Linked DNA regions of Homo sapiens: all the other regions are linked to region 2. Evidence: fine-mapped expression QTL. A gene starts in region 2. Each other region holds a variant in brackets. All regions are shown on one strand. Distances are from middle to middle. Region 1 overlaps LOC102724877. Region 2 holds the start of HES1 (hes family bHLH transcription factor 1). Region 3 has its middle 32 kb from the start of HES1.

Region 1 (8,181 bases), 27 kb after region 2:
ATCTACCCATCTTCCTAGAGACAGGTTTCCAGTTCTGGCTTCTCCTCCGGTGCCCTTAATCAAACCCACAGTTTGGCAGACGAAGCACAGCCCCTCCTTCTCCATCCCCATGGAGATCCAGGAATTTGTAGGAGTCGCCTCATTTCTGGTTATTCAATAACCGGCAGGGCATCGAATGTCAGGGCTAAGAAAACAAACCTGCCTACCTGTTGGACTGAATGACCTCATAGCCTGAGCTGTTCTCATGGTGTTGGCTTGCACTGTCTGTCAGCGACTCTTTCATCACAAGCCCGACTGACATCATACTGTTCTAAACACCTAACCTGATCATTGTCACTGTGCTTACAACACAGCCAAAGACAGCAGTTAAGGCTCTGATTAAGCCTGGGGGCAGTCTTGCATGAGGAAGTAAGGGGTCTTTTTTTTTTTTTTTTTTCCCAGCCTTAAGAATGGAGGATGTGAATGGGGAAGGAATGAAGGGGCTTATTGTGTTTTAATTCCAAATTTGTCCTTAACCTCCCTACCTGGATTTCCAGCCCAAGGCTTCACTCAGTACTCGGTGGAGAAGAGCAAACCATCTGCCCACATCTGACCTGGCTGACCAGGGCTTTCCTGCAGGGGAGGGAAGATTCTAGCACCATTCCACTTGTGGATGTCTCTGATTGGAAAATGATCTTCTCTGAGCTTTAGTGAATAACCTGAGGGCCTCCATTAGATTGTATTTGTGGGCCACTTTTCATCACTGGATTCCCAGGCAATGACTGTGAAAGATTCCCACAAAACAATAGAATGGATGCAAAATAATCCTATTATTTATTTATTTATTCATTTTTCAGACAGAGTTTTGCTCTTGTTGCCCAGGCTGGAGTGCAGTGGTGTGATCTCAGCTCACTGCAACCTCCGCCTTGTGGGTCCAAGCAATTCTCCTGCCTCAGCCTCCCAAGTAGCTGGGATTACAGGCGCCGGCCACCAAGCCTGCCAAATTTTTGTATTTTAAGTAGAGACAGGGTTTCACCATGTTGGCAAGGCTGGTCTTGAACTCCTGACTTCAGGTGATCCACCTGCCTCAGCCTCCCAAAGTGCTGGGATTACAGGCGTGAGCCACCGCGCCAGGCCTGGAAAATGATCTTGAAAGCAAGTCATAGCTTCCTCAAGTTAGAGTTGGAAGGATTAGGGAGATACTAAAAGGGAAGTTAATTATTCTATGTGATATAAATTCATTCATTTGCTCACTCATTCATTCACCTATTCATTCATGAAATCAATATTTTCTGAATGCCTGCCGTAGGCCATGTACTGTGTGATGCACTCAGGAAACAAAGACAAAGTCACAGGTCAGTGACATTCATGTGACTTGTATCCAGGAAGAAGCCTGTCCAGATGGCCGAGAGGGCCATGAGGAAGAAGAAAGCTCAAGGAGTGGCTGGGGAAGCAGGGAGGAGAGTTTTGGCCTAAGACTAGAATATTGATTTTCAAAGCATAGGCCCTCGGCACTGGACATCACAGTGATCGGGGAAGTATCTCAGTCAGCTTTGGCTGCCTTAATAAAATACCTTCACAGCAGGAATTGATCGTCTCCCAATTCTGGAGGCTGAATGCCCAAGAGCAAGGTGCTAGCAGGGTCCGTGTCTGTTTGGTGAGGGCGCTTCCTGGCTTGCAGATAGCTGTCTTCTGGCTGTGTCTTGTTATGGCCTTTCCTGGGTACTTGAGAGTAGAGAGAGCTCTCTGGCATGTCTTCTTATGAGGGCACTAATCCCATCCATCATGGGGCTCCCTTCCTCACGACCTCATCTAAACATAATGACCTCCCAAAGGCCCCATCTTCAAATGCCATCACATTAGGGGTGAGGGCTTCAATATATGAATTTTGGGGTGAAACAATTCAGTCCATAGCAGGGAGTTGGTTAAAAGGCAGATTCCAAACTTCCACCCTAAACCTACTGAATCCGTGTTTCTGGAACAGGTCCTGGAAATCTCCGTGTTGATTGTTAGGTATGCTAATGTTGGAGAATGTCCTCTTTAGGATGATTTAGGCTGTTACATAGAAAAGGATGTTTCCAGGGAGAGCTGGAGCTGGTGAATGCACACATGAACGAGGAACGTTGGCCTTGGGGCGAGGCCCAGCGTTCCGTATATTTGTGAATTTATTTATAACTGAGGCTTTGGCTGACGTAGAGCTGAGCAAAGGATAGGCTCGGATGTAGTTTTGCAAAATGTCAAGATAGAGCCATAATCCTACCACTGCAATTTGTCTCAAGAATTTAAGGACTCTCTCTTTTCCCTTCCCTTCCCTTCCGTACCCTTCCCTCCCCTTCCCTTCCCTCCCCTTCCCTTCCCTTCCGTTCCCTTCCCTTCCCTTCCCTTCCCTTCCCCTTCCCTTCCCTTCCTTCCTTGCTTTCTTGCTTTCTGATTTTACCTGCTTTTTCTAAGGAAGTCAGCTTGTATAAGGAGATTTAAAGACAGGCATGCAATTCTGAGGGATCACTGGGGTGAATTATTTGTTACCTGTTGTTGCTCATTTACCTGATCGGGGAGATTAACATTCTCCTTTGAGGTTTCTTTTCCTTTTAGGAACTGCTGTGGCTCTTGCCAAAGTCTCCAGGTAACCTTCTGCTGGGGAGAGAAAACCTCCACCAGTCTCCAACTATACTTGGCTCTCAATAAGAAAGCAAGAGGGCCAGGCACAGTGGCTCACACCTAGCTCTTTGGGAGGCCGAGGTAGGAGGATTGCTTGAAGCTAGGAGTTTGAGACCAATCTGAGCAACAAAATGAGATCTCTGTCTCTCTCAATAAATAAATAAATAAATAAATAAATAAATAAATAAATAAATATAAATTAACTAGTCGTGGTGGTACACACCTGTAGTTGCAGCTATTCCAGAGGTTGTGATGAGAGGATCACTTAAGTCCAGGATGTCGAGGCTGCAGTGAGCCATAATCCTACCACTGCACTCCAGCCTGGGCTGTTTTGCTCAGTGACTAATTACAGTTGGAGGAAATCAATCCTGAAAATTGGGGTGCCTTTGCCATCCACTTATCGCTTCAACATAAAATTTTTGAGTGCCTTCCATGGCATGGTGTGAGTTGCTGTGGTTAGTTAGGTGAATAAGACAGACACAGCCCCTGTCTTCATGACATTTATAATCTACAGGTGAAAAGAAACAAGTAAACGATGGATTGCAATGAAGCGTGGTGAGAGTTATGTTAATTCTCCTGTGGTTCCTTCTTCATGCCTTCAGAGACTGAACCTAGCTCAGGGCTGGATGGCTCATTGGTACTCAAAATATCCTTGTCCTGCATTCCTTTTTTGTTTGTTTGCAAACATTTGCTGAACCCCTATGAAATGTCATGTTGAATAGATATGTCCTGGGCTCTGCTTATAACCTTAGAGGCAGATTTTTTAAATTGAACAACATGCAAAACCTTGTTGCAGAGAGCTCAGAGTCAAGTGAGGAAGTCAGACAAATAAACAAAT[G/T]GCATCAGGGCTATGCTAATGACTCAGATAATACAGCAGTGGTCTGTACCAGGCCATAAGGGAATGTGGGAGTGGAGAAAGGGGTACAGGGGGGATGATTTCTGCTGGAGAAAGGAGCAAGGGCCAAGTGGCCCAGCAGGGATCCCTGAAGGTAGAGAGTGCAGGCTGGACTTGAAGCATATTAAGAGGGTTTGAATTCTTTCAGCACTTCCCAGCCAATAGGTTAAATGATAACTAATTCAATCATTCATTGAATTGTTCAGTAGCTATATATTGAGTACCTATGATTTCCTTAGTGAGCCAGCTATACAAATCATTGGATTAACCACTCAACCCAGCAACTAGCTAGCTGGCCCCCCTGACAGGTGACAAGCTATGTAATCAAGCATTTGGGGAGTAAATACAAGAAGTGAAAAAGTCTGTCTATTGCCCCCAGAGAGGCTACCTGTGGACTGCAATGGCCAAAAGTGTCCAGTCGCTTCCAAAGCTTCTCATTTAGAAAAAGGCAGGTTCTGCGTACTTCTCTTAATTTTTTAACAGAATGACAGCTCCGTTGTCTTCCAGGCTGGTATCTAAAGTATGAAGAGATATATATATATCATATATATGATATATAAGATATATGATATATATAATTATAGTTTATTTTATTTTCAATTCTAAATAATGTATGCTTACTGGAAAAAAATAGACAAATACAGATAAGGTGAAAGAAGATAACTACTCTCATTATTTGCCCTTTTTCTAACTTTTCTTTATGATTTTACATGATTATGATCACTGTATGTACAATATATACATTGTATATAACTTATTACATGCTTTTGTCATATAACATTACAGCAACATAAATTCCTCATAAGTTTCATTTCAAATGACCGCATAATTTTTCATCATTTATGTACCATGATTTTCCTAATGTATTTAACAATCTAAACTTTTAACATTTTATTTTTCTTAGGATAAATTTACAGAATTGGAATTTCTAGTTAAGGAGAAGGGCATAATTAAGACTCTCAATAAATATTGTAAAATTACTTTCCAAAGAGTCACAAGAGTTTTTATTCTCATGGTTATGGTCGTGTACAAGGTTAATTTTAAATTGTCTGATATTTCTTTCCTGCCCCGAACATGATTGAGACAATGAATTAAGCCTTTTCCTTATATCTGATTGGGTCAGCAGAAAGCAAGAGGTTTGAATGGTATTAATCCAGATCTCTCACACTGAATAACAAATACCTTGCCCTTAGTTTTTATTACACACTATTACAAAAGCTGGCCATCTTGATGTCTTCTGCTAAGCCATCCTTGAGGACCCCATTCACTATGTTACTCAACATCCCTTCTATCAGGCCATAGTCTTCTTTCTCTTTCATGTTAGCCATATTTCCACTTTTTGTCAGTGATATTTGGCTATCAAGAAGCTCATAGTTCACACTGGTGCTTGCTGGATTGTCTAAAGCCATCTCTCCTTCCCTTTAGGGGTGACTGAGAATAGGCTCAAGACCATTGGCCAAAGGCACTTCAGAGCATCAGCTGGATTGATGGTGTATTAGTCTGTTCTCACACTGCTATGAAGAGATGTCTGAGACTGGGTCATTTATAAAGAAAAGAGGGGCCGGGCATGGTGGCTCATGCCTGTAATCCCAGCACTTTGGGAGGTCAAGTCGGGTCGATCACCTGAGGTCAGGAGTTCGAGACCAGCCTGGCCAACATGGCGAAACCCTGTCTCTACTAAAAATACAAAAATTAGCCGGGCATGGTGGTGGGCACCTGGAATCCCAGCTACTCGGGAGGCTGAGGCAGGAGAATCACTTGAACCTTGGAGGCGGAGGTTGCAGTGAGCTGAGATTTTGCCACTGCACTGCAGCCTGGGCGACAGAGCGAGACTCCGTCTCAAAAAAAAAAAAAAAAAAAAAAAAAAATTAAAAATAGAAATAAAGAAAAGAGGTTTAATTTATTCACAGTTCTGCATGGCTGAGAGACCTCAGGAAACTCAAAATCATGGTGGAAGGCATCTTTCCACAGGGCGGCAGGAGGGAGAATGAGTGCCAGGTGAAGGGGGAAGCCCCTTATAAAATCATAAGCTCTCATGAGGACTCAGTCACTGTCATGAGAACAGCATGGTGGAAACTGCCCCCATGACTCAATTACCTCCCACCAGGTCCTCCCATGACATGTGGGGATTATGGAAACTACAATTCAAGATGAGATTTTGGTGGGGACACAGCCAAACCATATCAGATGGCAAGTAAGCTTCCAAAATGTCAGGGCTCTCTTCTAACCACTGTATTGGGAGAGGGGGTGGGATCTCATACTTCCTCCCTGAGCTAGGCTTTGGGATCGGCATGTTCTGCCATGCAGACTGTGAGTCCACTTTTTCAAGCTACTACAAGGGAAAGATTATGGGCCTGTTTCTAGAAAACCAGTGGAGTAGAAGCAGCAGGAGAATAGTGACCATCCTGTTTGGTAGTGGTGGTGGGTGGCAGAGAGGGGCAATTCCCCGAGCAGGCGGCTTATCACAGAAGTCAAGAGAGGCTGGAAAGCAGGTGTCTGCTCTGCTCTGAGGAGCCCAAAGGAGCAAAAGGCAGTGACTGTCTCCTGGTGCCCCTTACTCCGTGAACACCTACGGGTCACCCATTAGTTATTCCTTCTCCCCAAAGGGAGAGAGAGGGGAAAGGCTCACTCCAACCCTCCTACTTCATATTCTGGGGAGAGCAAGTCTCCCCTGTATAGAAATGTGAAGAAGAGGAAATGAAGATTATCCTCCAAGGATACTTAGCTGCAGTAGCCACTTAACCAGTCCCTTAAAAGGGGACATAATTGTCCTTTTTTTCCCTGCAACAGACTGAATTGTGCCCCTCCCTAAATTCATATGTTGAAACCCGAACCCTGAATGTGACAGTATTTAGAGATGAGGCCTTTGGGAGGTAATTAGGTTTAGATGAATTCCTAAGGGTGGTGCCTTCATGATGGGATTAGCACCTTTATAAGAAGAAAGAAGAGAAATTAGACATCTTGCCCACACACACACTCTCTCTCTCTGCCATGTGAGGCCATAACTAGAAGTCAAGTCGGCTGTCTACAAGCCAGGGAGAAAGCCCTTACCAGAAGCCCACCATGCTGGCACCCTGATCTTGGCCTTCCAGCCTCCAGAACTGTGAGAAAATCCATTTCTGTTGTTTAAGCCACCTAGTCTATGGTGTTTTGGAATGGCAGCTCTAGCAAGCTAATACACCTTAGCAAAAAAAATGACATTTCTGATTTTTCACTTTTTTATCTTGACCTTTGCTATTATAGATGTACTTACTTTTTCATTGTAAGCAACCTGAATGTTTATATCATCTGTAGGTAAATAATCATAAACTTGGAGTTCTAAGGCGGACATGCGTAAGATACAGTGAGCAAATCAAGATGCTTTATGGGCATGACTTTAAAAGCCAGGATCAGTGAGAACTGGAGGGATCAGGTACGGCTTTCTACGGGTGGCAGGGCTGGAGTTGGGTTTGAGTGGGTGTAAGATATGGAGAAGGGCAAGGGAAAGTGAGTCGTGAGATCAAAGACAATGCTGGAGTTGGGAATAATCCATGGCTAGAGATGAACAACTGTCCTTCGGCCCTTTACAGTTTGTAAAGTCCTTTAACATCCATTACATCACAAAATCCTCATGCCGACTCTACAAAGTGAACATAATTATCATCTCCATTTTACCCTTGAGGAACTAGACTCAGAGAGATCCGATGGTGAATCTGAGACTCACACCTGACTTTTTTGGCTACAAATTTTATCGTTACTCCCACTCCCTATTGTATGCTGTCTGAGTTGGGTAAGGAAACCAGTTTGACCAAAGCGGAGGGAAGCAGTTGCTCTGGAGAGAAGTGGAAAACTGCGGTGTTGAGCTGAGGCCAAACCAGACCCACAAGGTCCCTGAGAGCCGGGTGGTGCAGATTTTATGCAGGGGAAACCACTGAAGGCTTTTGAGCAAGGGTGTGACATAATACAAGTAGAGAGATCCACCGTGCTGAGCGCTAGTGTGCAGAGAGGATTGGGAAGTCCAAAGAGGGAAGATGGTAGCAGAGATGCCAGTGACGGAGCTTCTGGAAGGAGTCTGCATATCCAGATTAGATCGTTAGTATCCAGGATATGTTGGCTTCTTTTTTGGGATTCATCACTGTGCCATTGGAATTAGAACTGGAATTGGACATAACTGAAATATTCCATTCCTTTCATTCACCATCTTTATTAATGGGCCAGTATTGCAGAGATTTGGTCCACGTTATTTTCAGCATTTTTGCTACACCTGCATCTCAGGAGGCTTCTCTGGCCCCGCCTATAAACAAAATTATGATTAACACAATGAACTAACATGTCTTAGAGCTGGAGCTAACATCAATTGACTTTTATTATATTTACTAAATATTTACTGAGTACTCACCATGTGCCCAGCACTGTGCAAAGTTCCTCCGTTGGGAAAACAGAAGAGAATCGGCACAGAGCAGCTAGTTAAGCTGCTCATGGGAAGCGGACAGGAGAGGGGGCTGGGACTGAGGACTGTGGGGACAGGACACTGGTAGGAGGTTAGACAGGGACACAAAGCATGCACGAGAAGGAAACCAAGACTAGCTCCTTTTGGATGTCAGAAGGATTAGATGTGGATCCACCAGCAGCAGTTGAGTGTTCCCCTCTGAGGTTTGCTTTGTCTTGTA
Region 2 (8,181 bases):
GGAAAACTGCTGTCTCCCCGATCATTCCTATGATAGAGCCGCTCTCCACACTGGCCTGTGGGAAAGGCCAGAGCAGGGCGGGGGAGAGGTAAAGCTTTTGAAACAAGACAGAAAATCGTTGGCTTTATCTTTGTTAGGAAAGCTTCAAAGATTGATCTCTCCCGCCTCATCCTTCTCCTCCCAGAAGCCGGTCTAAGAAAAGGGGGGTTAGAGGAGGCTGGCGGGAGGGGCCGGGGGGGAGGAGGACTGGCCGGCGGTGGGGGAGGAGGGCGCGCCCGCCAGACCCACAGCGCGGCTGATGTGTCTGGTCTCGCAGGGCTCGTGGTTTTCATTTCCCCAACACCTGGATGCAGTCAAACACCTGGCCAAATCTGACAAAATCTGACAAGCCTTTGTGATGGGATTTGGAAGAAATTCCCTGCAGATCCTGGCACAGTTTAAAGCTGTCCGCTTTGAGTTAGGACTTGTTAAGGAGGGTTATGTGAGCTGAAACCCGAGACAACCCTTTTGCTTCTATCTGGAGCCCACATCTTGCCTGGAAATGGGGCATGACCAAGCGAAGGGGTCGCTTGCTGTTTGTATTAAAAGGGGAAGATGGCCTGTGTGCCTGCCAGCACAGCCCCCACATGCTTTCTCTATTAGAGCCAAGCACAGAAACTTATCAAAAACACATGTCTGGTGTTAATCATCTGGGCTCGGCCTCCACTTGGGAGTCTAACTAACTGTCCCTTGGCAGAAGGAATCTGTTGACCTTTTCAGCTTGCTTTAAGAGGGTGCGGAGAGGAAACTTTTGGGTGCTAGGGAACGTCTTATTTGAACCAAAGGATTGGCTAATTAATGAAGACCCCAAGTCTTGAAGGAGGCGCAGCAGTTGGAAGTGTTTTTGCTTTGGATGCTGGTGAGCTACCCTGAGAGGAGAGCTGCAGGAACCACCCTTAACGTGCAATGGGCAATAGGATTGGATCCATTAGCTTCGTGAATTTAGTCCTGTTCAATCTTCCTCAGGAGGAGCTAGAAGAACAAGGGCTGCAGACTTACCCGACTGCAACTTAAAAACATTTTTTTTGGAAATCCTTTAAGAGACTGACCACAAGTTTATCAGGGAAGCCTTACCAGATGGCTGCTTGTAAAGTAAATGGAATTTAGTCTTTTTAGTTCATGGAGGATTGGTGAAAAGTTTGATGGATTTTTACAAATGTTCTTTTAATAACAAAAGAGTCAATTCCTGAATTACCAATTACATGTAATTCAAATTCCACCAAAAGCCTTTTTACATATTCTGGAAGAATCAGTTCGAAGACATAAAAGCCTTTACTTTTTTCTTTTATTATATTTTCTCAAATAAACTTCCCCAAAGGAAGATATTTTAAGAGCATTTTCAAACATCTTTGGCATCACATAAAAAAGAAATCTCGTGTAAAAAACGAAATGTCATCTGAGCTTTTATAATACAAAGGCGCAATCCAATATGAACATATAAAATATATACAAATATAGTGCATGGTCAGTCACTTAATACAGCTCTCTCTACAAAAAGTAACTTCTTAGAAATTAAAAAAACACAAAGTAACCACTTAATCAAAAAAGTCCTCTTCTCTCCCAGTATTCAAGTTCCTGTTTAGAGTCCGGAGGGAAGAGAGGTGGGTTGGGGAGTTTAGGAGGAGGGGTGGCCTGAGCCCCCTCAGTTCCGCCACGGCCTCCACATGGAGTCCGCCGTAAGCGAGGGGCCGCTGGAAGGTGACACTGCGTTGGGGCCCACGGAGGTGCCGCTGTTGCTGGTGTAGACGGGGATGACAGGGCCGCTGTGCGCGAAGGCCCCGTTGGGAATGAGGAAAGCAAACTGGCCATCGGGAGCCGGTACCACCTGGAAGCCTCCAAACACCTTAGCCGCCTCTCCAGCCTGGCTGCCCAGCTTGCAGGGGGCGCCGCCGGGAGGGGGCGCCGCGCCCCCGGGGATGGGCACGAGTGGCGGCGGCGGCGCGAACGGCGCGTGCTGGGGGCCGCCGGGTCCCGGTGGGGGCGGTGGCGGCGCCTGCAAGGCGGGGTGCGGCTGCCCGGGGTAGGTCATGGCATTGATCTGGGTCATGCAGTTGGCCAGGTGGCCGAGCAGCCGAGTGCGCACCTCGGTATTAACGCCCTCGCACGTGGACAGGAAGCGGGTCACCTCGTTCATGCACTCGCTGAAGCCGGCTCGGTACTTCCCCAGCACACTTGGGTCTGTGCTCAGCGCAGCTGCGGGCCAGAAAGAGACAGACGGGTCACCGAACGGCCCTGGCCCCGTGGCCACTGCCTCCGCCCTGGGAGGTCCCTGTGGCGCGCCTCCCTGACCATGCGCCCGTGAAACTGCCTCCGGCAGGGAGGGTGAGATGGGTTTAGAAAAAACCAGCCACCTCTCCACACTAGCGTTGCTGCCAAAAGCCGAGCCACTCCTTCCCGATTCCCTGTAGCTGCATTTAAACCTATCTCAGCCCCAGATCTGTCACCCCCACCCCCGCGCGCGATGTGACCTTGGACAATGCCTCCCAATCCATCATCCAAGCCTCATTTCCCCTTCTGCAACGGGAAGGAGTGCTAAACCAGTGACCCCCAGGCTCCACGCAGTTCCAAACCGCCACAGTCCTAAGTCCTTTCGCCCCTACCCGGCGCCCGCCACCCTCGCGGCTGCAACCTCTTTCCCTCCCTTTCCGGAACAGTAACAACTTGGAGTTGTGGCTATAAATAAGCCCCAGACCGTGGGAACGCAAGAGTGAGCCAAGGCAGTAAAATGTAGCTGAATGCCTCTCACAACCACGGGCGGAAGTCTGGAAGAAATCACCGCGAGGCGAGCGGGACGCCCGCACAGGGGGACGCGGCGAGCCGCCCTCACCCGTCATCTGCGCCCGCTGCAGGTTCCGGAGGTGCTTCACTGTCATTTCCAGAATGTCCGCCTTCTCCAGCTTGGAATGCCGCGAGCTCTGCATAGAGTAGGCAAGAAAGGAAAGTGAGCCCCGTGTCAGCTGCTTCAGAGTGCTGGGGGTCCCTCCTCCCGGCCACGGAGCGCAAGCATTATCTCTGGACCCCAGCGAATAAGGCCGGGCCCTCCCGCCTGGGAGAACGCAGTACCAGCGAGTGCCAGACCCCGCAGGGCGGGGGGTTTCACTCTTAGTAGCTGAGAAAGTGTTTGTTTTTTAATTAAAAGAGCGAGCAGCATTTCCCCACTTACATCTTTCTTCAGAGCATCCAAAATCAGTGTTTTCAGCTGGCTCAGACTTTCATTTATTCTTGCTCTTCGTCTTTTCTCCATAATAGGCTTTGATGACTGCAAATAAAAAAAAGAGTTCTGTGTTCCCATGGAATCTGCCATCCCGGGGTTTCAAGACAGAAAGAAGCCCCCCAACCCCTACTTAATTTTGAGGGGCTGCAAAGAGATACAGGTACCGCCCTTACCTTTCTGTGCTCAGATGCTGTCTTTGGTTTATCCGGTGTCGTGTTGACACTGGCTGGGGTAGCAGCCACCGGGGACGAGGAATTTTTCTCCATTATATCAGCTGGCATTTTCCTTTTTTTTTTTTTTTTATCTCTAGAGAATTTTATTTTTGGAGTTCTTCACGAAAAAGAATTTTTTGTTTGTGTCTCTTTTACTTGAGACTTTCACAAAACTACTGAGCAAGTGCTGAGGGTTTATTATATTTTGTGGCTACTTGGTGATCAGTAGCGCTGTTCCAGGACCAAGGAGAGAGGTAGACGGGGGATTCCGCTGTTATCAGCACCAGCTCCGGATCCTGTGTGATCCCTAGGCCCTGGCGGCCTCTATATATATCTGGGACTGCACGCGAACGGCTCGTGTGAAACTTCCCAAACTTTCTTTCCCACAGTAACTTTCAGCCAATGGGAGGAGGAGACACGCGGCACCGCTCGTGGACCGCGCCCCCCCATTGGCCGCCAGGCACAAGGTCTGGCGGCCAATGGCGCGCGCCTGAGCCCAGGGCACCGGAGGCTACAACGTCAATCAAAAGGATTTTAACCCTTTGCTACTCTCCCTCTGGGCTTTGGTTTAGAGATTTTTTTTTTCTTTCCGCTTTGGTCTTGATCTTGTCTATTTCTTTTGGAGCCAGGGTCTTTGCTCTTTATGCCCTCTCTCATATGTAACAGAGCTGCTTTGACTGTAGTAAGTTCATTTGAAACATATTTTTTTTAAAGGTATAAACAATAAAGAAAAAAACAGCAGTGGTTAAAAGGGGGCGGGGGGAGGGGGGGACGGGTGTAAGAATGTGAGTTACCGACACATCTAAAGTTCCCGCTCAGACTTTACATTCAGGAGGGTGAAAGTAGATGGTAAAGGAAAAGGGCCAAAAAAATTTTCCTGTTTCCATGCAGAAAAAGGAAAAATTGCCTTCTACCTCACAAATGCAGGTTTTTCGGAGCAAGGTAGTTCTTGAATCCCACCCCCACCCCGTCTTTCAGAAATTCCTCGTTTGGATTTGGGGCCTTAGACCCCGGGCTTCCCCAGGAAACAATCAGAATAATTTCCAACTGGGTGGAAGGAAACGGTATTTCAAATGAAAAAATGAACAAGGGGGGCTCCGAGGGCAATGACTCAGGGACTCGCGCCCTCCTTCACCACCCTTTCCCTTTTCATCCGTAGGCTTTAGGTTCTGCGGCGCGTTGAGGTGGCGGGCAAGGAAGCAGCCTCTCCCTCCTCGCCCCGCGGGCGGCCTCGGCCCCCGGCGCCCGCGGGCCCTTTAAGAGCTACACCAGCCGAGCTGCAGTTTGACATCAGCCGGCCGGCGTGGGCGCGCCTGGAGCCGGAGCACGTGCCAGGATGTTTTATTGCCGCCGCGGCTGCGGCCGGGCCGGGAGGATGTGTGTGTGCGTGCGTGTGTGAGTGAGTGTGTGTGCGCGCGCCCCGGGGGCAGGGAGGCGGGGGGCGGCGACGGGCGGCGGAGAGCGGGGGCCGGTTCCTGGTCCCCGGGAGAAGCCAAGAAGGTAAATAGCAGCTGCTGTGCTCGAGCCTGGGAAAACCCCGCCCCCTGCGCCTGGCCCGGGCTCATTGGCGCGCGCTGCGTGTGGGGGGTGTGTGTGTGTGTGTGTCCGGGGCCCCCTCCTCCGGCCCCGCCGGGCCAGGAATCCGAGGGGGCGGCGGGCTGGGAGCCGAGCCCCGGCGCTTACCCTCTCTCCCCACCCCCGCCTCCCCAGGCCAAGGTCAGCTCTTCCCGGCGGGGAGCGCACACCCGGGGTGGAGAGTGGGGAATTCTTCCAACCCCCGCCTCCCCACCCTCACTTTCGGGCTTGGGGTTTTCACTCGGCCGAAAGCCGCATTCGCAACAGCCCGGGGGCGAGGTGGGGGCCTCCAAGTTTGCTCCTCGCCCCCGCCCTCTCCCCGCGGGGCCCTGGGCGCCCGCCGCGGTCACGGGATGCCTGACCGCACTTAGGAAGCGGCCGGGTCAGCCTCCTGCCTCCGCTCGGCGACTGCGGTTAAAGCGGCTTCGCGCCGCCCGCCCCTTCCCCGGGTCCCGGGCGGCCGGGCCGCTCCCCCTCACTACGCCCGGGAGGCCGCCGGCGGGCGCCCGGGAGGAGGCGGGCGGCGCGGGCGGCTGCGTGCTGCCTGCTGGCCGGGCCGCGCGCCGGGAGGAGTCGCCGCCGCCGCCGCCGGGTGCCACGTGGCGGGCGCCGGGCCGGGAGCGCCAGGGCTCTGGCGGCGGCCTCCCTGGGGGATTTGCCGAGCCGGGCGGGCGGCGCGCACTGCCTGGGCCGGCCGGCCGCCTCCTCCGCCTCCCTCCCGCCTGCCCGGGTCGCCGGCCCCCGTGCCCCCACCCCCCCTCCGCCCTTCCCGCCGCCTGGGAGCTCGGCTCGCGGCTCCGGGCAGCCCGGGAGCCCAGCGTCTTGTTTGATGTGGCCTCCCGCCCCCTCAGCCCTTCCCGCGTCCCGGAGGCCTGGCGCACGGTTCTCAGACACTTCATTCCTTCCGGCCTCCCAGCTCCCCACTGAGATAACGTTGTCAATGATTTCGCCAGATCTCGTCCCGGATGAGATTCAGTGGTTCCTGACTCTGGGTGACCTTGGGCAAGCCCCCCTCTCTCTTTCATTGTGGAACACACGCGCAGTGTCAGACACTGTGTTAAACCCTGGGATTTCCACGGTGAGAGATACAGTGGCGGCCTGCTAGAAGTTGACAGTAAACTGCGGGGGCAGACAGACGCTGATTTTCTGATTGATGACTGGACATTCCTTTATTTTTCCTTTCTTTTCTGAGTTAGGTGGTGGCTTGAGAGATCAGGAGGACAGAAACAAAATATGAAACCATACTTGTATGGATAACAGTATTGCTGGTCTACCTGGGTTTACAGCAGTGAGTAAGACCGTTATTGCTCTCTGGAAGCTAACAGTCTAGAGATACATATAAACGTGTACAGCTGACATCTACGGATGGCCCAGTAAATTCCTCTGGGAAGTCGTAGGTTCAAGAGAGACGTATGTCTGGATAGAGGTAAAATGCTATGGAGTTTCAGGAGAATTAAGTTACTTTTAAGTTGGGGTACCTTGGAAAACTTCCTGGAGGGATTGGCCTGTGTACCTTGAAAAATAGGTAGGATTGGGGCATTGGGAATGTGCTTAGTCGTGGGCTGGAGAGGATGCAGGTACCCATGGTATTAAAGGCCAAGATCCTGGAACTTGAAGACTTTATTCAGGGAACATGGTCTGGAGCCTAGGGAATGTGAGGGACTGGAAGAGGCAGCTTGAGGCCATGTCACAAGCTCCTTAAACATCTTGCTGAAGGACTTTGGACCTTATCTTTAGACAGTGGAGAGCCATGAAACATTCTTGAGCAAAGAAGAGGCATCAGGGTTTCCCTTTAGAAAGATGGCTCTGGCAAAAGTGGGAGAGTGGATTGCAGGGCTTGGAGGCAGAAAGGGCAGTTAGGCAGTTCAAGCCAGTGAAGAAGGTTCCTAGGAGGCAGGTGCAGACTGACTCCCAGAGGCATCTGTCTACATCCAGCTCCTCTGGACATTGACCGCACGCTCTTGGGAACTGAGTTCAACTCAAACCTGCCTACCCTTTAATGCAGTGTTCCCAACCCCCAACCAGGAACTCAGGAACTCAGATTTAATTCCTGAGTCTAACTAAGGAATCATGGCTCTGACCGTATTAACCTAAGCCTCATTTCCACCTTCCAGGATAGTCCTCCAGTCTGCAACCAAACATTTCCCTCATCGAAGGCTTTGGTTTACTCACTGTTGCCCCTAAGGCTACTCTGAGATTTTTTTTAAAAAATGTTTTCTTACACTGCAGAGTGAGCTGTGCCCTGTCATGTTCTGAAGAAATGATGAACAATGCCTCCTTTGTTGACCTGCAACCTGGGCCAAAGGGGAAGGAATTTTCTTTCTTATTTTAAACAGATGGAAAAGTGGTGATGACAGAAAATTGTCTGTTGCTTTTGGAAAACGTAGGGTTTTCCTGTGTGGTGAAAATCCTCTTGGTGAAAGGTGATGAGCCTATGAAGTTACCCTCCTTTCTGCCATGGCCCCAATAAGCTTTGCAAGCTTCTTAAAATGCTTCTACTGAGCGTCTGACTTTTTAAAAACTTCCCAAATACACTGACCCAGATTCTTCTGAGGAACTAAACCCTTCCCGGGGAAGCATGTTAACCCTTTCCAGGTTCCCCCCAAATCTTTCAGAACCAGTGCCTGCTCTGCTAGGCTCTGCCAGGCTCTGCCATGACATTGACTGCTGTCTGCTGGTCGGCCCTCATTAACTACTGGGTTATGCCACTCCCTGCCCATTCTAAGAGACTTTTTCATCTGATTCTGTTCCCCACTCTTATTTGGTGCCCTGAAGGTGCATGGGGAATGGAATATGGTCAAGTTAGGGTCTCACTGAAGGGGCTAAAGCAGCCTCGTGGGTCAAATAGTTAATCAGCAACTCGTTTATTGCCACTTTGGGAGTGCTTGGACTGGTGGAATGGGCAAGTAACTTTCACACACACGTTTTTAGATAGGGGGACAGAGGCTCAAGTAACAAAAAAAATTATGAATTTGTGTCTGGACCAAAAATAAATAAATAATAAATAAAAATAAATTCCAGGAACTCTCTGGCTTTCCACTCTAACCATTCAAGAAGAGTTTCTTGCAGATGGGCTCACAGATGACTTTTCAGTTTCCTTATGCTAGGCAGTGAAAATAGGACCAACGTTGTCCTCTCCCC
Region 3 (8,181 bases), 33 kb before region 2:
AGTTTGCTGTAAGCCTGTTGGATTTGCCACTGCTGACAGGGTTGGTACAGTTGTTCAGAAGGGCCCTTTGGCCCTGTTATGGGCTGGATGTTTGTGCCCCTCCCAAATTTGTATGTTGACACTTAATTGCCACTGTGATATGATGGCATTAGGAGGTGGGGTCTTTGGAAGGGATTTGTGCTGTTATAAAAGGCTGAAGAGATCAGAGTTCTCTTTTTCCACTATTTCTTGGGAATTTTTCTGATGGACGGGGCAGACACAGTGAGAAGGTACCATCTATGAACTAGAAAGCAGGCCCTTCCCAGACACTGAATCTGATGGTGCCTTGATCTTGGACTTCCCAGCCTCAAGAATTGTGAGAAATCAGTTTGTGTTATTGACATGTCACCTGCTCTGGGGCATTTGGTTATAGCAGCCCAAATAGACTTAGGCCCTGATGTGCAGGCGTGCTGACCAGTAATCCGAGCAGTCAGTAGGGCTGCTGTGCATAAGAAGATGATTCTTCAAAGCGCTTCCAAAGACTGTCCTCCCTCAGTGTTTGTAGGTGTATATTTGACTCAACTCATAACACTGTTTGGCTTTAGAAGGTGGATAATGGTTCTTCAAACCCAAGAAAATTATCATAAGGGAGAGAAGTGGGGAGTCAACAAAGGGCTCAGTGAGCATGAACTGAGATGTTCATTGTATTGGCCTCCATCTCCCTTTTCCCCTTCCTACCCAACAAAGCTTCAGCTCAAAAACACTCATTCAATGCTTCACAACGAGGACACGTTCTGTGAAATGCGTGCTTAGGCAATTCCATTGTTGTGTGAACGTCACAGAGTGTACTTACACAAACCTAGATGGTACAACTTACCACACTTGTAGGCTATGTGATCTAGCCTATTGCTCCTAGGCTACAAATCTGTATAGTATGTTACCGTATTGAGTACTGTAGGCTGTTGTAACACAGTGGTAAGTATTTGTGTATCTAAACATATTTAAACACAAAAATAGTACAGTAAAAGTGCAGTCTAAAGGATTAAGATGGGCCTGTATAGGGCAGCTCTATCATAATCCTGTGAGACCACTGTCACTTACATGGCACAAGACTGTATCTCCTGGGTCAAACTGCATTGAAATGCATTTTCCTATACCATGCTACGAGGGTGAGGACACATCTGTAGGTAGGTAGGTTTCAGGGTGCTGGGGAACAGGTGAAAAGGCTCAACCTCTCTTTAATAATCTAGAGAGGGGCTTTTGAACTTTCAGACACAGAAGTCTTTTGGAAAAATGAAGTTTAATGTGGAACTCTATAAATATATATATATATAAGTGATATTTAGCTGGCATAACTTTATTTTGTATGTTCAAATTTATAACATTTATTAACATTTCAACAGGAGGTTGTTTGTTTTGACTAACGACATTTTGAAATTGTAGAAGTGGGAGATAGTTGCTATCTTATCAGCCTCTGCATCTGATAAACATCTGCATTTGTTTTGTTGCTTCCTTTCCAGGTTGCAAATAGAAAGTTATCTGAGGGTAGCATTGCAGTCCAGGGCGCTTCTCAAGTATATGGAGAGAATAAACTTTTTGCTCTGAAGTCAGCCCTAAAATGAGTTATAGATTTCTAGGGTATTGGTTTCTCATGTCTTAATAATGCAATATAATTCAATTAGCATGCATATTATTTCTTGTTTCCTTTTAAAAAACATTTCTAACTGTATTATAAAAATATAGGCTTACTGTCATGTTTGTAGAATTTCTGAATCACTTGTGAGGGGTGTCTTTGGCCAGCGGGCATGAAGAACTGTAGGGGTCTAAGGTAGCCCTGCTGGGGGATATGGGTGAGATATGTCCTCTTCCACACAGAGGCAGTGAAAGGGCCCATGGTGCCCCACAGCGGATCATCTGTAAGCCCCATTTTAAAGCCAGCTTCTCAAGGTTCATGGTGCCCCACGGTGGATGACAAGTAAGCCCCATTTTAAAGCCAGCTTCTCAAGGTTCATGGTGCCCCATGGTGGATGACAAGTAAGCCCCATTTTAAAGCCAGCTTGTCAACATTCACTGGGTCTCTCAGTCGCCTCCCTCTGTGGCTTCTTATTTCCTTGCTGGAATCTTTTTTTTTTTTAAATATGCTTGCCTCCCCTCAGCAGGCTCCAGACCGCACCTGGAAGGTCACTGGAGCCAGCCTGTAAGAGGAAGTATCACCCTTCCCTGAGACCACCATGAAGGTGGGAGTGGTGGGCTTCAGAAGACTCCCAGGAGAAGGGGATCCTAGATACAGAAAGAGGGTTCTCCCAGTGTCCTCCCCAAACCCCCATCCCTCCGCCTTGCCAACCCTGGAGTTTCTGGGCTTTATTTTTAGTAATAAAGCCAGTATTTCCTTAATACTGCAGTCTGCCAAGTTGTACATTAGGCACCGTGGGGGCACAGAGACAAATAGGCTCCGGGCAGCCCCCAGCCTTTCACAGTCAACAGAAATTTGAGCTCCTGGGCCCTTTCAGCCAAGAGAGAAGCTGGGTTCACGGTGCTTCTCAAATGTTATTTTCAAAATGGACTTATCTCAAAGCCGATTGAGTACTAATTTATGTTTTCGATCCCAGTAAGATCTGTTGAAATGCACCCCTTCTTCCAGGCCACCCCCACCTCTGCAGTGTGAGGGAGCACGCGTCAGGGTGTCTGCTGATGACGGATGACCCAGCTTGCTCTTTGTATTGCTTGGCCGGCAGATTTTGTTCCCAGATTGTTTTGGAGTGGCCAGAAGCGGTCAGCATGTGGGATCTCCAAAATCTTGGAGACGTCAGGTCACATACTGGTAACATCATTCAACCGAAGACATTTTTAAAAAAACATAATTCTCTGATATTTGTTAGTTGAGGCTGAAGCCTTTACTTCTCAGGCAGTGAGGAATAGAATTCCAGGGAAAGTAATTTCGCATTGGAGAAAAGTAAAGAATAGAGCAATGTCTTCCCTAAGCCCAGCTACGATTTCTCCTTTCCCAAGGGTCTCTAACGGTGGAGGAGGGCTGGGAGCCCTGTTCTCTGTGTCCTTGTCTTGTAAGTGAGAGACTGGGCTATAGCGAGCAATTATCTATCTCTGAACCCACAGAAAGAGAATGGGTCTATGAGCAATTTTCAATATTTCAAAAAGCTTCATGGCAATCCTTCATTTGCCTGGATATGGGTGGCACAGTCTGATGAAGATGCCTCCTTGCTTTGCTTTTGGCTGTGTGGTAACCCTGGGGACTACCTCATGCAAACAAGAAGGTCTGCCTGGCCAAATAGAACTGTGATTCATTGCCTGGGTTTTGACAGCAGACAGATCTGGGGTCAAGCCTGTGCTCATCTGCTTCCTAGCAGAGTGGCTTTGATGGAACTACTTGATCTCTGTGAACTTCGATGCTTTCACCTGTAAAGTAAGGACAAGAATCTGAACCTCAGGGTGCTGTTGGGGTAGGTCTACGGTGAGCCTTCGATAAAAGGTAGCTGCTGTTGGGACTAGTTGTGATTAATGAAAAATGAGAAATGGAATTATTATTTAATAAAAGTAACCTATTGGTGGGCAAAGATCTTTTAAAACTTGTAGCCCAGAAGGGTTCTAGGCAGTGAAGGTTGGGACCCTCTACACCAGGCGACCCTAAATTTTTCCTTTGCAGTGGGGCTGTGGAGAGGACGTACGTGCATGATTGAAGTTTAACAGGGAAACTTTCATTTCATTTCCTTTTGCTGATTATGCATATCCTGTGGTGTCCTAAAACTCAAGCCTAGGACCATAGTTCAGGCCACATGCCCTGTGGTGACCTCCGTCTAAGCCACCTCTGTGTGCCCTAGATTGAAAACTGTTGATTGAAAAGGTCAGAACAATACCTTCTGTCATGATGGCTGCAGATCACATTCAATCGGGACAGCATTCTAGTGATTCAAAAGACACACACACACTCACACTCACACACACACACACACACACACACACACACACACACACACCCCAAACAGGGACATCAGTGACCTGCGGAGAATGGGGGAGATTTGAGGATTTACCTGGGAATGAAGGTTTCAGTCATGCTACCACCCAGTGGTGGGTGGAAGTAACCTGGTCAGTTAAGCCTGCTCCAGGATTTTGTTTGATATTCAATAATTATCTTACTGCTGCTCTTTGTTCTGGAAGCTCTTTCTTGGCAATGTGTTGAGACACATGTTTTTTCTTCTTTAAAAAAAACACACACAATACAGTGAGACTAAAACTGCTCTAAAAATTGTTTATTAAAACAAAAAAAAAATGTGTGTGTTTGTTCTGCTGACAACAGTGCCATGAAATATAAAACTTGGTGCCCAGGATTTCTTCATGCTAATATATTACATAACTTGAAGGCTTCCCTATGTATTGAACCCCTGTAGAAATT[T/G]CCGGCTGAACGTCAACCTCTTCCCCTTCCTCCCAACACACAGCTCTACCTCCCACTCACTTTGCAGTGGACTTTCTTTAGAAGGTCTCTTTTAGATTTTTCTTTTTCATCACACAGAGACGCTGCCATGAATGAAGAGTCTTTCTTCTTACAATTGAAGACTTCAGCTTCAAAAAAATGAGATAAATTCATTTTCTCCTCTCTAAGGTACTTGAAATGTAAGAGTTCATTGAAAGGGGAGGGGGAAACTCATTGTTGAAATTCATTAAGTTTTAGTCTTGACTAAAATGAAAGAAATGGAGATTAACAATTCAAAAATGGAGCTTGTTCATTAAAATTAACTACAGTTACACAGCTTGTCATGCAGTTCACGGGGAATCATTTCTCTCCTGCTTAATTATGATGATGAAAACTCAGCTTTTACTAGGATAAAATGATGTCATCCTTATCAGAAAAAAAAATTGTTTCCCAAGTCTGGCTGCAGCAGTATTTTTCTGGGATGTTTAAAAAAAAAAAGCTTCTAAAGTGATTTGTTAAGTAAAGTTGTTCTCCAGAGCTAGCTCTGTATTGATGTATGTTTGAATACGGGGGGGAAATGTCTCACATAATGAATCCAAGCTTAATAAACCAAATACCAAATGCATTTAAATTTATTACAATTAGGACTTTCGGAGTTGTAAACACCTTAACAGACACACAACTTCAAAATCATTCTGATATTACCGAACTTATATTCAAAATGCCCTGTGCTTTCGTCACATGATTTATTAGATGTGGTGATTGGCATGTTCTAGAATTTCCCCCTCCCCAAAGAAAACACATTTTTTCTTACATGGTTATTGCAGCAGTTATGTATTATAGCTACGAGTGTTATGAAGCACAGCATTACGTTTTAAGAAGCTCCTTCCCTTCCCCATGAGAGAAAGGGACTCTACAGGAAGCAGAGGAGTGGGGCAGCGTGGAGCTACAGGCTCTCATCTCTGGGATGGTTCCAGCTGTAATAAGTGAGCCCAAGACTCTAACGTAACAGGAAAACTCCACTGGCTCCAGTGATTAGGAGGGACCCCGCCCACAAGGACGCTGTTGGCCCCTGTTGCCATCTGCCTTTGGACGTGTTAGGAGGTAAAGAAAGGTCCTTTTTATGTTAAAATCTCACTACCTCTGAAACTGCCCTACAGAAATCCCATCATTCCCCTTCTCTCTCTTTTCTTGGCAACACTAAAAGTCCTTTGTAAACATCCTCCCTGAAAAGCCTCTGTAGATCTGTCCGATAAACTTCCAAAGCGGGGGGCGGGCGAGCGGGCGGGTAGTTTAAGCTCCTGCCTGGGAACAGATTGAATGTAGACAGTTTAAAAGATTATTACATTTGGAGAAGTAGCTGAAATCACCAAGCTTGAAAAGGTGTGAAGGAGCAGCAGAAAGGATACAGTCCTGGTCTGGCTATGCAGGGCTTTTTTTATTTTCTTTCCCTAGACCCCTAAAGCTGTGAGGAATCTTGTTGCTAATCAGAAGGAAGAAACCCAGGCTCTTGGTCCTAAATGCACACAATTATGAAAGCAAAGGCAATGAAACATTAAAAGATGTTCCCAAAGTATGTCAGAGCTAACATACACACCACTCCAACCAAACTGAATTAGCCCAACCAGTCAGAAGTGCTTTTTTTTTTTCTTTTTTTTTTTAAAAAAGAATCTGTTGGCAAATGTGTCTCATTTATCAAATCCTTTCATTTCCCCTTCTCCCCAGCCCTCCTTCACAGGTCAAAGGAAATGCACTGGTCTATTGAAAGATATTGATTTCCTCCCACTGTGAGATTCCTAAGGAACCTCATTGAAAGGAGGGATAAAGATCCTGGTGGGTTTCAGGGACAGCTCTCTTACTTCCTCTTCTCCTACCCTGGCTTCTTCCCATTGGAATGCAGCTAGTTTCTTGACTTTTGGTGAATACTAGGAGTTTCCCAGGAGACATTGTCAGAGACTAGATGGAGGTTACTCCAAGGTACAGTGGATTAAATGCTGCACTGGATGGAGGTGGGACCAGAAGACCCCTAGGACTCCTCTAGCTCTAAGGTCCTGTGGACCAGTCTTTCAATTCTACCCCAAAGGGCCACTTACAGTTCAGAAGCAACTGATACAAGCCTCAGGAAATTAGACTTAGATAGATATTGACCCCCTCCTCTCACCCAGATGATCAAATGGCAGGTGTGGACACTTGTAAGGACAGCAGTGCCTTGTAAGTTAGTCGGGCCGGATGTTGAGTGACGATTGTGGGCAATGCTGGGCTAGATGATGTTGAAACAAAACAAACATGCAGACAAAAACCCTTCTCTTTCTCTTTGAGTAGCGTCTCTTTAGCGAGACCATGACTCTGAGCTCCTAGATGACATACTACATCTATTTTTTAATATTAAATTTTATTGAGGTGTGATTGGCATGAAATAAACTGCACATAAAGTATGCAAGTGATAAGTTTGGCCTATGTGTACAACTGTAAAACCCTCACCACAATCAAAACAGTGGATATATCCCTTCCCTCAAAAGTTTCCTCACATCCCTTTAGGATCCTTTCTGCCTCTCTGGCACCCTATCTTCCCTCCCCCAGTCTCTAGGCAACAGCTAATTTGCCTTATGTCATTGTAGATTAGTTTGCATTTTGGAGAATTGTAAAAGAACGGAGTCATAGAGGACATATTCTTCTTTTTCTGGCCTTTTTTACTGAGCATAATTATTTTGAGATCCATCCATGTTGTTGCATTTATCTGTAGTTTATTTCATTGTATTCCTACATAGTAATCCATCGGATGGATAATATCACACTTTGTTTATCCATTCACTTATTGATAGACATTTGCATTGTTCCAGTTTTTGACTGTTACAAATAAAGCTGCCTTGAATATTTTATGTACAAGTCTTTTGTATCGACATATGCTTTCAGTTCTCTTGGGTAAATACCTATGAATGAAACGGCTGGATCACATGTTAGGCATATGTTTAACTTCTTCAGAAATCATTTCTTGAAATAGTTTGTACCATTTTATATTCCAACCGGCGGTATGTGAGAATTCTAGTTACTTCACATCTTTGCCAATGCTTGGCATGGTTAGTCTTTTCAGTTTTAAACAGTCTGGTGTGTGTGTGTGGTGGGTTCGTATCTCATTATGATTTCAATTGCATTTTCCAAATGACCAATGGTATACATCTTTTCATGTGCTTATTTGCCATCATATTATTTTGGGATGAAGGGTCTGTTGAAATCTTTTGTCCATTTTTTAATTGGTTTGCTTTTTTTATTATTGAGTTTGCAAGTTCTTCATATAATCCGGATACAATTCCCTTATCAGATTTGTGATTTGCTAATATTTTCTCCATTTATTTTCTTTTTCTCCAAAGTTTTTTATTCTCAAGGCAGTGTCTTTTGAAGAGAAGGTCTTAATTTTTTTTAAGGGATGGGGTTTGCTATGTTGCCCAGGCTGGAGTGCAGTGGCTATTCACAGGAACAATCTCGCTACTGATCAGCATGAACGTTTTGATCTCTCCATTTCCAATCTGGGCAGATTCACCTCTCCTAGGGCGACCTGGTGGTCCCCCTCTCCCAGAAGTTCACTATATTGATGCTGAACTTAATGCAGACGCCCTTTACAAGGCTGTATTTTAAACCACACCAGTGTTCAGTTCCTTAGCAAGACGATTCAGAGACAAATACCAGCACTATTAATTATACCTTTATTTAGAAGTGCAGTATCTTGAAAGACAAGTGTTTGAGTAACTTGGAAGAAAAGAAGACTGAAAGGAGGAAAG

What was found. PIP is the estimated chance that this variant, and not a neighbour inherited with it, causes the effect.
Region 1: its variant is fine-mapped to the expression of HES1 in whole blood (TOPMed, PIP above 0.99).
Region 3: its variant is fine-mapped to the expression of HES1 in whole blood (TOPMed, PIP above 0.99).

The regions. Positions count from the first base shown.
Region 1 is chr3:194,104,721-194,112,901 of GRCh38, reverse strand. It overlaps LOC102724877, which reads right to left. Exons shown (of 6, transcript XR_002959666.2): 5 at 3,921-4,047. Among named protein-coding and RNA genes, the nearest start is that of HES1, 27 kb to the left of the region's middle. The variant G/T (reference allele first, on the strand shown) is at 3,476.
Region 2 is chr3:194,131,734-194,139,914 of GRCh38, reverse strand. It overlaps HES1 (hes family bHLH transcription factor 1), which reads right to left and starts at 3,767. Exons shown (of 4, transcript NM_005524.4): 1 at 3,427-3,767; 2 at 3,203-3,298; 3 at 2,867-2,954; 4 at 1,183-2,232. The coding sequence starts at 3,534. The coding sequence ends at 1,682. RefSeq lists enhancers at 1,654-1,843, 3,641-3,800, 2,610-3,809 and silencers at 1,874-2,073, 4,800-5,339, 5,410-5,689.
Region 3 is chr3:194,164,289-194,172,469 of GRCh38, reverse strand. No RefSeq gene overlaps it. Among named protein-coding and RNA genes, the nearest start is that of HES1, 32 kb to the right of the region's middle. The variant T/G (reference allele first, on the strand shown) is at 4,388.